Homo sapiens: one gene and its partner. The protein of the gene in region 1 interacts with the protein of each later gene in a biochemical or structural test. Each region holds a gene or a part of one and is shown on either strand. Other genes may lie near its edges. The genes, in order: UNC119B and GNAT1.

Region 1 (3,970 bases):
AGTATCCAAGTTTTCCAATAGAGACAGAATCAGATAGTGGTTGCAAGAGGCGAAGTGGGGGAAGTCACCTGGCTGCAAACACAAGGAACTCAGGAACTTTCTGAGTGGGTACGATGGAAATGTCCTATATCATGATTGTGATGGGTAATAAAAGTATTCATTTGTCAAAATGCATCAATACTCTTAATTGAGGTAAATTTTACTGTAGTTAAAGTATTTCTTAATAAGCCTACCTTTATGGCCAGCCACAGTGGCTCACACCTGTAATCCCAGAACTTTGGGAGGCCAAGGCGGGTTGATCACCTGAGGTCAGGAGTTCAAGACCAGCCTGGCCAACATGGGGAAACCCTGTCTCTACCAAAAATACAGAATTAGCCGGGCGTGGTGGCATGCACTTGTAATCCCAGCTACTTGGGAGGCTGAGGCAGGACAATCACTTGAACCCGGGAGGCGAAGGGTGCAGTGAGCCACCATCATGCCATCACATCCCAGCCTGGGAAAAAAGAGCGAAACTCCATCTCAAAAAAAAAAACCCTACCTTTAAAACATGCATGTAAACTTTCAATTTACAAAGCCACTCACCCTGGGAAAATATAAAGCAAAAATATTAAGCCTAAAGTCCAGTACAATTCCTCAATCACCCTAGAAGCCAGCTATACTCTAGTTCAACTACTTACAGAAGGGCCACATAATAGCCAAAGTAAGAGAAACCTGGAGCCCCCATTCGCCCCTGCTCCCCTCAGCAACACAACGGGCCCAACAATCAGGAGACAGGACGAGGGAGACGTACTGTGAAAATCTTTCTTTTATTACTGTCTCATGTGGCAAAATAACATTTTATACAAATAAGTCACCTAGTTTACTTTGGACACAAAGACAATAAAAACTGGAATGTGATTTTGGGGGAAGCGGGAAGGAGGAGGAAGGACAGATCAGGTCATTGATGTTTCTTATATTCTGTAAAAAATAGATTTACAGGAAAAAAAATAGACTTTCACAACTTCAATGACTTTACACGGTCCTTTGTAAAACCAGTGGTAAATCCACCTCCACCAAATCCTTCTTGAGGCTGATATGTTCTGTGACATGGAATGTGAGTAACACAATGGTTCAATGATTAGGCTCCTACACCAGGTACAGCAGCACCTGATGCCACAGGAATCCTCGTGCACTGGGGTGAGGAGTCAGTCCTGTGAATTTCAGGACACACTGTCCTCATCCCCAGACCTCACTGACATCATAGTGACACTGGCCATCAGAAGAAAGTGACTTTACAGAGGGGAAAAGAGTATCCTGGAAGCGTACCGGTGGGGCAGGACACACTAAGGCAGGACTCACCCAGTTTGTACATTAGACACAGCCTATTAAATCCATTCCAGAAATGAGTTCCACTTCAACTGAAAAAATAAACTGAAGATTGCCCAATCACTGCCATTTCACAAATTTCCAGTTTATGGTCAGCCCCAAAATCACATTCTTCCACCCTATGTATTGGAAATCAAATGGCCCAAAGACTGAGGTGTCTTCAGGAAGCACATGCTTGAAAAATGTTTTCTCTGCAAAACAGTATTGAGTAATACATAAGGAGACATAGCCTACTTTAGCCCAAAACTTCTTTCACTTGTTATGTCCTTTTACCTCTTAAAACATAGAATGAAATAAACTCGGATCTTCTTTGGAGAAGCTAGAAGGGCATTTTGGCCCAAAGGCTGTACAGGAAAAGAGAGGCTCTCTCCAGGAGACTGCAAGGCAAAGGAACAGAAGCAGGAGGGGCAGGCCCTCTGGCACCAGGTGGGCCTGCTACTCTGATGAAATGTGCTCCCAGCTCTTGACAAAGGGCAGGGTCTCCTATGCAGGTAGTTTTTTTGCCGCCTCCCATTGTATCACCCACAAGGTAACTGCTATCAACAGTTCAGATTCCTTAATAACATGGCAGCCTGAATGGTTCTGTTACTTTCAGAGAAAGTATGCCTTGCAATTCTCTCCCCAACTCAGGTACAAACGCTTGAATTTCAAACTCATACTGGTTTACACCCCAGAGTGGAATGCTTCTCAAGATTTCCTGAGCAGCTAGACACAGGAACCCACAGCCCCAGATACAGAACACCAGACTTTCAGAAGCAGCAAAGCCCTGTCCTGCTGGGCATGGACCAAGCACTATCCGCAAATGGTCTCCAGTGAGACTAAGGCAAGCTAACAAGGAAGAGGATACAGCACAACTCAAGCCAGATTGCCCACCTCCTCCTTCCTCCACATCCTCTTTCTAGCAAAAGCGAACACTGCAGATAAGAGATAGCCCACTAATGTAGCAGATACAGTGTGCCCAGGGGCATGTTTCCAAGACACACTCTACTAAGCACAGCTCTGGGCAGCTCCAGAACCACATCCCAGATAATACTCAAATATCAAATAGTAGAAACTGTCCCACCTGGGCCTCTGTCAAAGAGAGAAGGGATTGTTGTTACGCTTGACAGGAACATGCAAATCCCATTTGAGGAGCCACAATGAGAAACAGAAGGTGAGGAGACAGTGCTAACAGCCCTGGCATCTTTCTGCCAGTGAGGAGGTGGGAACAATGGCAATGCAGCTTTCCCCTGCAGCATAAGGGACAGAGCCACACGTAAGGCACCTGGATTTACAGTGGACGCCAGTTCTGAGAGTGGCCGGTCTGGTGATAAGGAACCCACTCCACAGGAGGAATGGTCTCTCCCCTCTCTCGGGGCTGAATCCAAGGCCAGCACACAGGGGTAAGCTAGGACCTTCTCAGTGAGAAAGCTGCCAGCATGTGGCATTGCCAAGACTCTGGCCTGGGACAAAGCACTGGGCCAAGGTTCGGGGCCACTCGCCCTAAAGCCCACACAGGGAGCAGCACTGGTGGTGGATGGACAGGAATTTCTGTGGCCACACACTGTCTCTTCCATCCCTGGCCCCCATACGGCCTTTCTCCCAAGCACATCAGGACACTCTCCTGTCACAGGTACTGTGACACCTCACAGTCACTTACCAGATACCTGGGCCTTTCCTAGTGACATCCTTCTACTGATGCTAACTGGACCCTGGCCACATCAATCGTCTCATCAGAGGGTTTGTGGAGTCTGTCCACTAAGGGTCTGAGGACAAAAGCAGCCCACAGATGTGCAAGTGAACTTTTTTGAGAACACATCACTCTGACAGGCCACATCAGCCTATTTTGCCCTTTCTGAACACCTAAAACAATTCTAACTAGCAGTCTGAAGGCTCAGACTGCATTACGTAACTCTGATCCACCAGGAAAGTTCCAGAAACTACTTCAGTAGAAAGGTAGATAGGAAAACCCTCCTAAACAAGAAATGTACAAAGAGCTTCGGAGGCAAATCCCCATCAAAAGCCAATCCTCCAGGCTGTGCAGTGCAGAGAAAAGTCAAATCTCTCCTTTAGAAAGCTGCTGCTGATTCGTAAGCATATCCTCCCAACATAAGCCAGATTAGCCCCTGGAAGCTGATACTATCAGAAGTCTAACCACATATCACATATGCTGGGAACACCACTGTCATTTTATAAAACCTCCCCGAAAGAAGTCTGGAAATAAAAAAACAAAATACAAGACCTGCTCTGGCCTCAAGAGATACTACTGTTCCATGAGCAGAGCTGACTCATTCTATTTCATGAGACTCAGAAGGGAGGAGCCAGGAGATGTGGAGCAAGCTTGTCTGTCCTCCAAAATGGGAACAGAAGGCACTGCCAGGCTGAAAACTTGGTCTATTCCCAGGAGGGCTGGCTGAGACCCTGGAAGTCAGACAGAGCAGCAGCCTCTCCACAAAGCAGACCCTTCAGCTTGGCAGCATCACCCATTCCTTGGTGCCTCCACTCTTGGCACCTCCCTCCCTCCCCACCCTTTCAAGTGTCTTCCAGTTGGTTTAAGACTTCACACAGACCGAGGGCAGACTGCGCTGATGGCAATGCCGGAGGTGAGAGGAGGAGCTACCTGGAA
Region 2 (7,355 bases), on another chromosome or scaffold:
AAAATACAAAAATTAGCTGGGCATAGTCATGCATGTGGTCCCAGCTACTTGGGAGGCTAAGGTGGGAGGATGGCTTGAGCCTGGGAGGCAGAGGTTGCAGTAAACCGAGATCATTCAACTGCATTCTAGCCTAGGCGACAGAGCCAGACCTTGTCTCAAAAAAAAAAAAAAAAAAAAAAAAGGAATTCTGTGTGTGCTTCAAATTTTCCTCATTGTACAGAACCTCCTTATGGTCATCACTCCTGAAATGGAAATCTGTACAGATGCCTTATTCAAATATCTCTCATTATGTAGAAACTTCATGTGGTTTTTCTGGCATATGGAAATCCCACATGGGTGCCTCTACACGGAATGGCCACAAAGGTGGTCTGATCTGGTTGCTGGCTAGGGCCATAGGGTGGTCACAGAGCCTCTGAACCCCCTCTCCTTGCCCCTGCAGATTCGTGCAGAGGACCGCTTCCTGCGCACAGAGCAGGGCTTGTTGCTCCGTGCACTGCAGCTCAGCGATCGTGGCCTCTACTCCTGCACAGCCACTGAGAACAACTTTAAGCACGTCGTCACACGAGTGCAGCTGCATGTACTGGGCCGGGACGCCGTCCATGCTGCCCTCTTCCCACCACTGTCCATGAGCGCCCCGCCACCCCCAGGCGCAGGCCCCCCAACGCCTCCTTACCAGGAGTTAGCCCAGCTGCTGGCCCAGCCAGAAGTGGGCCTCATCCACCAGTACTGCCAGGGTTACTGGCGCCATGTGCCCCCCAGCCCCAGGGAGGCTCCAGGGGCACCCCGGTCTCCTGAGCCCCAGGACCAGAAAAAGCCCCGGAACCGCCGGCACCACCCTCCGGACACATGAGGCCAGCTGCCTGTGCCTGCCATGGGCCAGCCTAGCCCTTGTCCCTTTTAATATAAAAGATATATATATATATATATATATATAAAATATCTATATTCTATACACACCCTGCCCCTGCAAAGACAGTATTTATTGGTGGGTTGAATATAGCCTGCCTCAGTGGCAGCATCCTCCAAAACTTAGACCCATGCTGGTCAGAGACGGCAGAAAACAGAGCCTGCCTAACCAGGCCCAGCCAGTTGGTGGGGCCAGGCCAGGACCACACAGTCCCCAGACTCAGCTGGAAGTCTACCTGCTGGACAGCCTCCGCCAAGATCTACAGGACAAAGGGAGGGAGCAAGCCCTACTCGGATGGGGCACGGACTGTCCACCTTTTCTGATGTGTGTTGTCAGCCTGTGCTGTGGCATAGACATGGATGCGAGGACCACTTTGGAGACTGGGGTGGCCTCAAGAGCACACAGAGAAGGGAAGAAGGGGCCATCACAGGATGCCAGCCCCTGCCTGGGTTGGGGGCACTCAGCCACGACCAGCCCCTTCCTGGGTATTTATTCTCTATTTATTGGGGATAGGAGAAGAGGCATCCTGCCTGGGTGGGACAGCCTCTTCAGCCCCTTCTCCCCTCCCCGCCTGGCCAGGGCAGGGCCACCCCACTCTACCTCCTTAGCTTTCCCTGTGCCACTTTGACTCAGAGGCTGGGAGCATAGCAGAGGGGCCAGGCCCAGGCAGAGCTGACGGGAGGCCCCAGCTCTGAGGGGAGGGGGTCCGTGGTAGAGGCCTGGGGCCGGTAGAGGCTCCCCAGGGCTCCCTTATGTCCACCACTTCAGGGGATGGGTGTGGATGTAATTAGCTCTGGGGGGCAGTTGGGTAGATGGGTGGGGGCTCCTGGTGGCCTTCTGCTGCCCAGGCCACAGCCGCCTTTGGGTTCCATCTTGCTAATAAACACTGGCTCTGGGACTAGACTTTGGCTTCTCTCCTTGGTCAGGGGATTTAGAGCCACACGTGGTGGGCCTGGGGAGCCAGGTGGGGGGCTGGGAAGGGAGTAGATTGGCTCCATTTAAAGAAACCCAACATGTAGAAACCACATTTAGTTTGACAAACCTGGGCTGCTGCACCACCCCAAACACTTGGGTAGTGCGAAGGGCTGTAGAGACCCCTCAGGGCCCACTCACTCCTCAGGGTCAGGGAGGGTGGGTGGAGCCTGAAGGCTGAAAGTGGCAGAAATGCAACGGCCTCACTCCTGGACAGATCCCCATCATCCAACAGGGTGGGTGTAGAAGCTGCCAGCCTGTGGTAGGAGCCAGCATTCACTTCCCACGCATACTATTTAGAGACAGCCGTTAGTGCTCAGTGTCTGGTGCCCCGGCACCCCCTTGTGGTCTCTTGAGTCTGTGGCAGAGTTGAGTGCTGAAAGGCAGCCAGGTTCCAGGGAAGAGTCCAGCCAGGAGGCTCAGGGTGCCTGGAGGAGCCTTTGAGAGCCCAAGATTTGGGTTTTCCTATGGAAGTTGAGGGTGGGAAGTCTCTAGAACCTGGGAGCTCAACCTGAACAATTTCTGCCCGGCAGTGAGCCCTGCACCTGAACAGAGCACCAGACCCCCTAAGCTGAGGCAGGCAGGCCCTGGAGATAATCTTAGGCAGGCCTCAGAGCACCCACAGCAGACAGAGCAGGAGCAGGATAGGTGAGCCCCATTCCTCCATACCCCAGGGAACACTACACCTGCTCTGGGATGCAATTTCTCCACCTGGCAACAGGCCTGCAAAACATTCTCTGGAAGAGCCTGGCCACTTCTGCAGATTAGAGACTTTGTTGCACCCAAATTCAAGTGTACATATAGGCACAGGCGCCTGCAAGCATGCATGCACACACACAGTCATACACAGGCAGAGATGGACATGCACAGGCACACATATGCTCAGGTACAAACAGGCATGTTTACACCCCTGCGTATAAGCAAGTGCACACATGCAAACCTACACAAACTGCAAAACACACAAGCCTATGTGTGCATGAAGAGAATACACAAAGCATATTCACACATGCATACACATGTGTATACATGTGCACACATACATAAGCATGCGCACAGGCACGTGATTCCTATAAGAGCACATGCACTCACAAAGGCATAAACATGCAGGCACACATGTACACACAGGTATTCATGCACAAATGTGTCAAGTTATTGCTCGCTTGGTGCCAGCAAAAGACACACCCATGGCCGGGCGAGGTGGCTCACACCTGAATCCCAGCACTTTGGGAGGCCGAGGTGGGTGGATCACAAGGTCAGGAGATCGAGACCATCCTGACCAACATGGTGAAACCCCGTCTCTACTAAAAATACACAAAAAATTAGCTGGGTATGGTGGCACATGCCCGTAATCCCAGCTACTTGGGAGGCTGAGGTGGGAGAAGCTTAAACCAGGGAGTTGAAGGTTGCAGTGAGCCAAGATCGTGTCACAGCACTCAAGCCTGGCAACAGAGTGAAACTCTGTCTCAAAAAAAAAAAAAAAAAAAAAAAAAAAAGGCCAGGCACGGTGGCTCATGCCTGTAATCCCAGCACTTTGGGAGGCCGAGGCGGGCAGATCACGAGGTCAGGAGACTGAGACCATCCTGGCTAACACGGTGAAACCCTGTCTTTACTAAAATACAAAAAAAGTAGCCCGACGTAGTGGCGGGCACCTGTTGTCCCAGCTACTCAGGAGGCTGAGGCAGGAGAATGGCGTGAACCTGGGAGGTGGAGCTTGCAGTGAGCTGAGATTGCGCCACTGCACTCCAGCCTGAGCAACAGAGCGAGACTCCATCTCAGAAAAAAAAAAAAAAAAGACACATACACCGAGGCACACAGAGCAGATATGCATGCCCACCACAGTCCGCTGGAAGCAGAGGACCTCCTTGGGGCAGCTCCAGCCTGTGATATGGGATGAATGCAATGCCCACTGTTTCCCTCTCTCTGGATTCCCTGCAGGTCATAAAATCCCAGTCCAGAGTCACCAGCCCTTCTTAACCACTTCCTACTGTGTGACCCTTTCAGCCTTTACTTCCTCATCAGTAAAATGAGGCTGATGATATGGGCATCCATACTCCAGGGCCAGTGTGAGCTTACAACAAGATAAGGAGTGGTGCTGAGCCTGGTGCCGGGCAGGCAGCAGGCATGTTTCTCCCAATTATGCCCTCTCACTGCCAGCCCCACCTCCATTGTCCTCACCCCCAGGGCTCAAGGTTCTGCCTTCCCCTTTCTCAGCCCTGACCCTACTGAACATGTCTCCCCACTCCCAGGCAGTGCCAGGGCCTCTCCTGGAGGGTTGCGGGGACAGAAGGACAGCCGGAGTGCAGAGTCAGCGGTTGAGGGATTGGGGCTATGCCAGCCCGATTAGAAGGGTTGGGGGGGCTGAGCTGGATTCACCTGTCCTTGTCTCTGATTGGCTCTTGGACACCCCTAGCCCCCAAATCCCACTAAGCAGCCCCACCAGGGATTGCACAGGTCCGTAGAGAGCCAGTTGATTGCAGGTCCTCCTGGGGCCAGAAGGGTGCCTGGGAGGCCAGGTTCTGGGGATCCCCTCCATCCAGAAGAACCACCTGCTCACTCTGTCCCTTCGCCTGCTGCTGGGACCATGGGGGCTGGGGCCAGTGCTGAGGAGAAGCACTCCAGGGAGCTGGAAAAGAAGCTGAAAGAGGACGCTGAGAAGGATGCTCGAACCGTGAAGCTGCTGCTTCTGGGTAGGGGTGTGGGCCCAGGTGGGGCCACTGCCACCAGGTCATTGGTCTGGAGGCAGGCAGGCAGCCCTTCTGTGAAGCAAGGATTCCCTGGGAAGCAGTATGAGCCTGTGACAGAGTAGGGCACAGGGTGGGAGCCCTGGCCAAGCAAGGCCAGGCCTGACAGGTGGTGTCCTAGTCCCCCAGGGCTGGACATCCCACAAAGCCCCTCTCCAGACGGCTCTGCCTCAGGTGACCCACCCTCCCCAGAAGTGCGTGCCAACCACACTCTTGCACGGGTGTGTGATGCCGACTTTTCCGTGGCTGGGTTCCCGCAAGCTTCATGCAGCCTTTGGTTTGATACGCCTGCTAGGCAATGCTCAGAAGCCAGGAGCCTCACTGGGAGCCCGTTATTGGGCTGCTACTTTGGGAAGGGGATGGCCATAGTCCTCCTGGGAGTGGGGAGCCTCTAGGACCACCCAGATCCACAACGAATGGCCCTCAGGTGCCAGAGGGCTGTGGCTGATAGACCTACAAAGCAGCCAGAGGGGCTGGCGGGTACTGAGGCCCAGTGGGAGTAGATAAAGCCGCGTCCACTGGACCATGGGCACTGAGGAGAGATGGGGCTGATCCAGGCCTGCCTCAAGGTCACTGCCTGACCTCTCAAGGGGAAAAAGCAGCTTCAAGAGGGGCTCCACCCAAGCTCCCCAGGGTCTGGTCAACCAGCTGGAGGTGGGTGAGGGACCAAGCCAGTCCCACTTTCCCCCAAGGCAGAGAGGCTAAGCCGGAAATCTCATTAACTGTGCCCAACGCCCTCGCAGGGGCAAGCTCAGAAAGGATGTCAACTCTGCCCTCCCTCCTACCCAAAAGAGCTAATTCCCTCTGAGCCTCCTGGAGACACCTGCACCCCTTCAGGTGAAATGCAAGGGGTTTACCCGCCTCAAATAACCCAGTGCTTGCGGTACCAGAGGCTCCCACGAGGTGGCGATGACGCTCCGGGATTTCTTCATTGCAGTCTCACAGCATAATAAAGGCTGCCTGTGCCGGGGTCTTGGGGACTCCCCTGTCCCAGAACAGTTGAGGTCGTTGAGTCCCCTCGTTGGCTTCCTTTCTTCACTTTCCTGGCATTTGCAAACCTTGTGACTTCAGGATGTCAGGACTTAATTTGGATGGGGGGGTAGGTGTGGCTACGGGGTCGGGGCTGGCGCTCAGGCCTCTTCGCTGCGGGTCCACCCTGCCAACTCGGGAGGTCCCCGTCCTCCTGGCCTCCTTGCTGGAGGGGGCAGGCTGGTCAGCGCAGCTCTGAGGCGCCGCGTCTCTTTCAGGTGCCGGTGAGTCCGGGAAGAGCACCATCGTCAAGCAGATGAAGTGAGTGCCCCTGCCTGTCCCGAGGCCCCTGGGTCTGGGTCCTTCCCCACTTCCCCACGAGGCGCTGATTCTGCTCTCCTCGGCCTCAGGATTATCCACCAGGACGGGTACTCGCTGGAAGAGTGCCTCGAGTTTATCGCCATCATCTACGGCAACACGTTGCAGTCCATCCTGGCCATCGTACGCGCCATGACCACACTCAACATCCAGTACGGAGACTCTGCACGCCAGGTGTGCCAGGAGGCGGGCTGAGCGGGCCTCTGGGGACTCGAGGCTCGCGGCTGGGCCCGAGTCCCTGGCCGCCACCAGCCACTCTCACCCTGCCCCCAGGACGACGCCCGGAAGCTGATGCACATGGCAGACACTATCGAGGAGGGCACGATGCCCAAGGAGATGTCGGACATCATCCAGCGGCTGTGGAAGGACTCCGGTATCCAGGCCTGTTTTGAGCGCGCCTCGGAGTACCAGCTCAACGACTCGGCGGGCTAGTGAGCGCGCGGGCAGCGCGGGGCGCGGGGCGCGGGGCGCAGGGGGCCCTCCACGCCTCCCCACCCACCTACGGCCGGGTCTCGCGCAGCTACCTCTCCGACCTGGAGCGCCTGGTAACCCCGGGCTACGTGCCCACCGAGCAGGACGTGCTGCGCTCGCGAGTCAAGACCACTGGCATCATCGAGACGCAGTTCTCCTTCAAGGATCTCAACTTCCGGTACGACCCATACGCTAGCCCAGGAGGTCACTGCCCCAGGCCCCGTCCTGCCCCGGGGACCCCATCCCTGCGATAGACCCTGCCCCTTCCCTGATACCCCGCCAGCAGAAAGGGTGGTAGTCCCGGCCGAGAGCTCCCCGACCAGCACAGGGCGAAGGGATGTTGCCTGTGGGGCCCGGGGCGCAGGTTCAGGCCCCCGCGGCCCCGCAGGATGTTCGATGTGGGCGGGCAGCGCTCGGAGCGCAAGAAGTGGATCCACTGCTTCGAGGGCGTGACCTGCATCATCTTCATCGCGGCGCTGAGCGCCTACGACATGGTGCTAGTGGAGGACGACGAAGTGGTGCGTGCCAGGCAGGGCCTGTGTTCCAGGGGGGCGAGGAGGAGCTGCTGGTCCCTGGAGGCGGAGACCGCGCGCTGGGCTGGGGGAGGGCACGGGAGGGGATGCCTGTCCCGGGCGGCCTGAGGAGGCCCGGAGGCGTTCAGCAGGCCCATCTGGGGCAGTGCGGGGAGCCCTCTGAGAGCCAGCTGAGCGGGAAGCCCCGCGTGCCCGGGAGCCCAGAGAGCAGGTGCTGCGGGTCGGACGCTACCCCGGGTGCCCAACAGCTGCTGCCCTCCTCAGAACCGCATGCACGAGAGCCTGCACCTGTTCAACAGCATCTGCAACCACCGCTACTTCGCCACGACGTCCATCGTGCTCTTCCTTAACAAGAAGGACGTCTTCTTCGAGAAGATCAAGAAG

Evidence for each region.
Region 2: the proteins of UNC119B (region 1) and GNAT1 interact in a biophysical measurement, tested with the Homo sapiens proteins (one study listed by IntAct).

The regions. Positions count from the first base shown.
Region 1 is NC_000012.12:120,720,458-120,724,427, reverse strand, and holds the end of UNC119B (protein unc-119 homolog B), read right to left. Parts: 3' UTR 788-3,970; downstream 1-787. UniProt on the Homo sapiens protein: Myristoyl-binding protein that acts as a cargo adapter: specifically binds the myristoyl moiety of a subset of N-terminally myristoylated proteins and is required for their localization.
Region 2 is NC_000003.12:50,187,266-50,194,620, forward strand, and holds the start of GNAT1 (guanine nucleotide-binding protein G(t) subunit alpha-1), read left to right. Parts: upstream 1-4,344; 5' UTR 4,345-4,460; coding exon 4,461-4,566; intron 4,567-5,867; coding exon 5,868-5,910; intron 5,911-5,999; coding exon 6,000-6,141; intron 6,142-6,240; coding exon 6,241-6,398; intron 6,399-6,487; coding exon 6,488-6,616; intron 6,617-6,826; coding exon 6,827-6,956; intron 6,957-7,235; coding exon 7,236-7,355. Other genes in the region: SEMA3F (semaphorin-3F isoform 1 precursor), read left to right, coding at 440-850. UniProt on the Homo sapiens protein: Functions as a signal transducer for the rod photoreceptor RHO. Required for normal RHO-mediated light perception by the retina.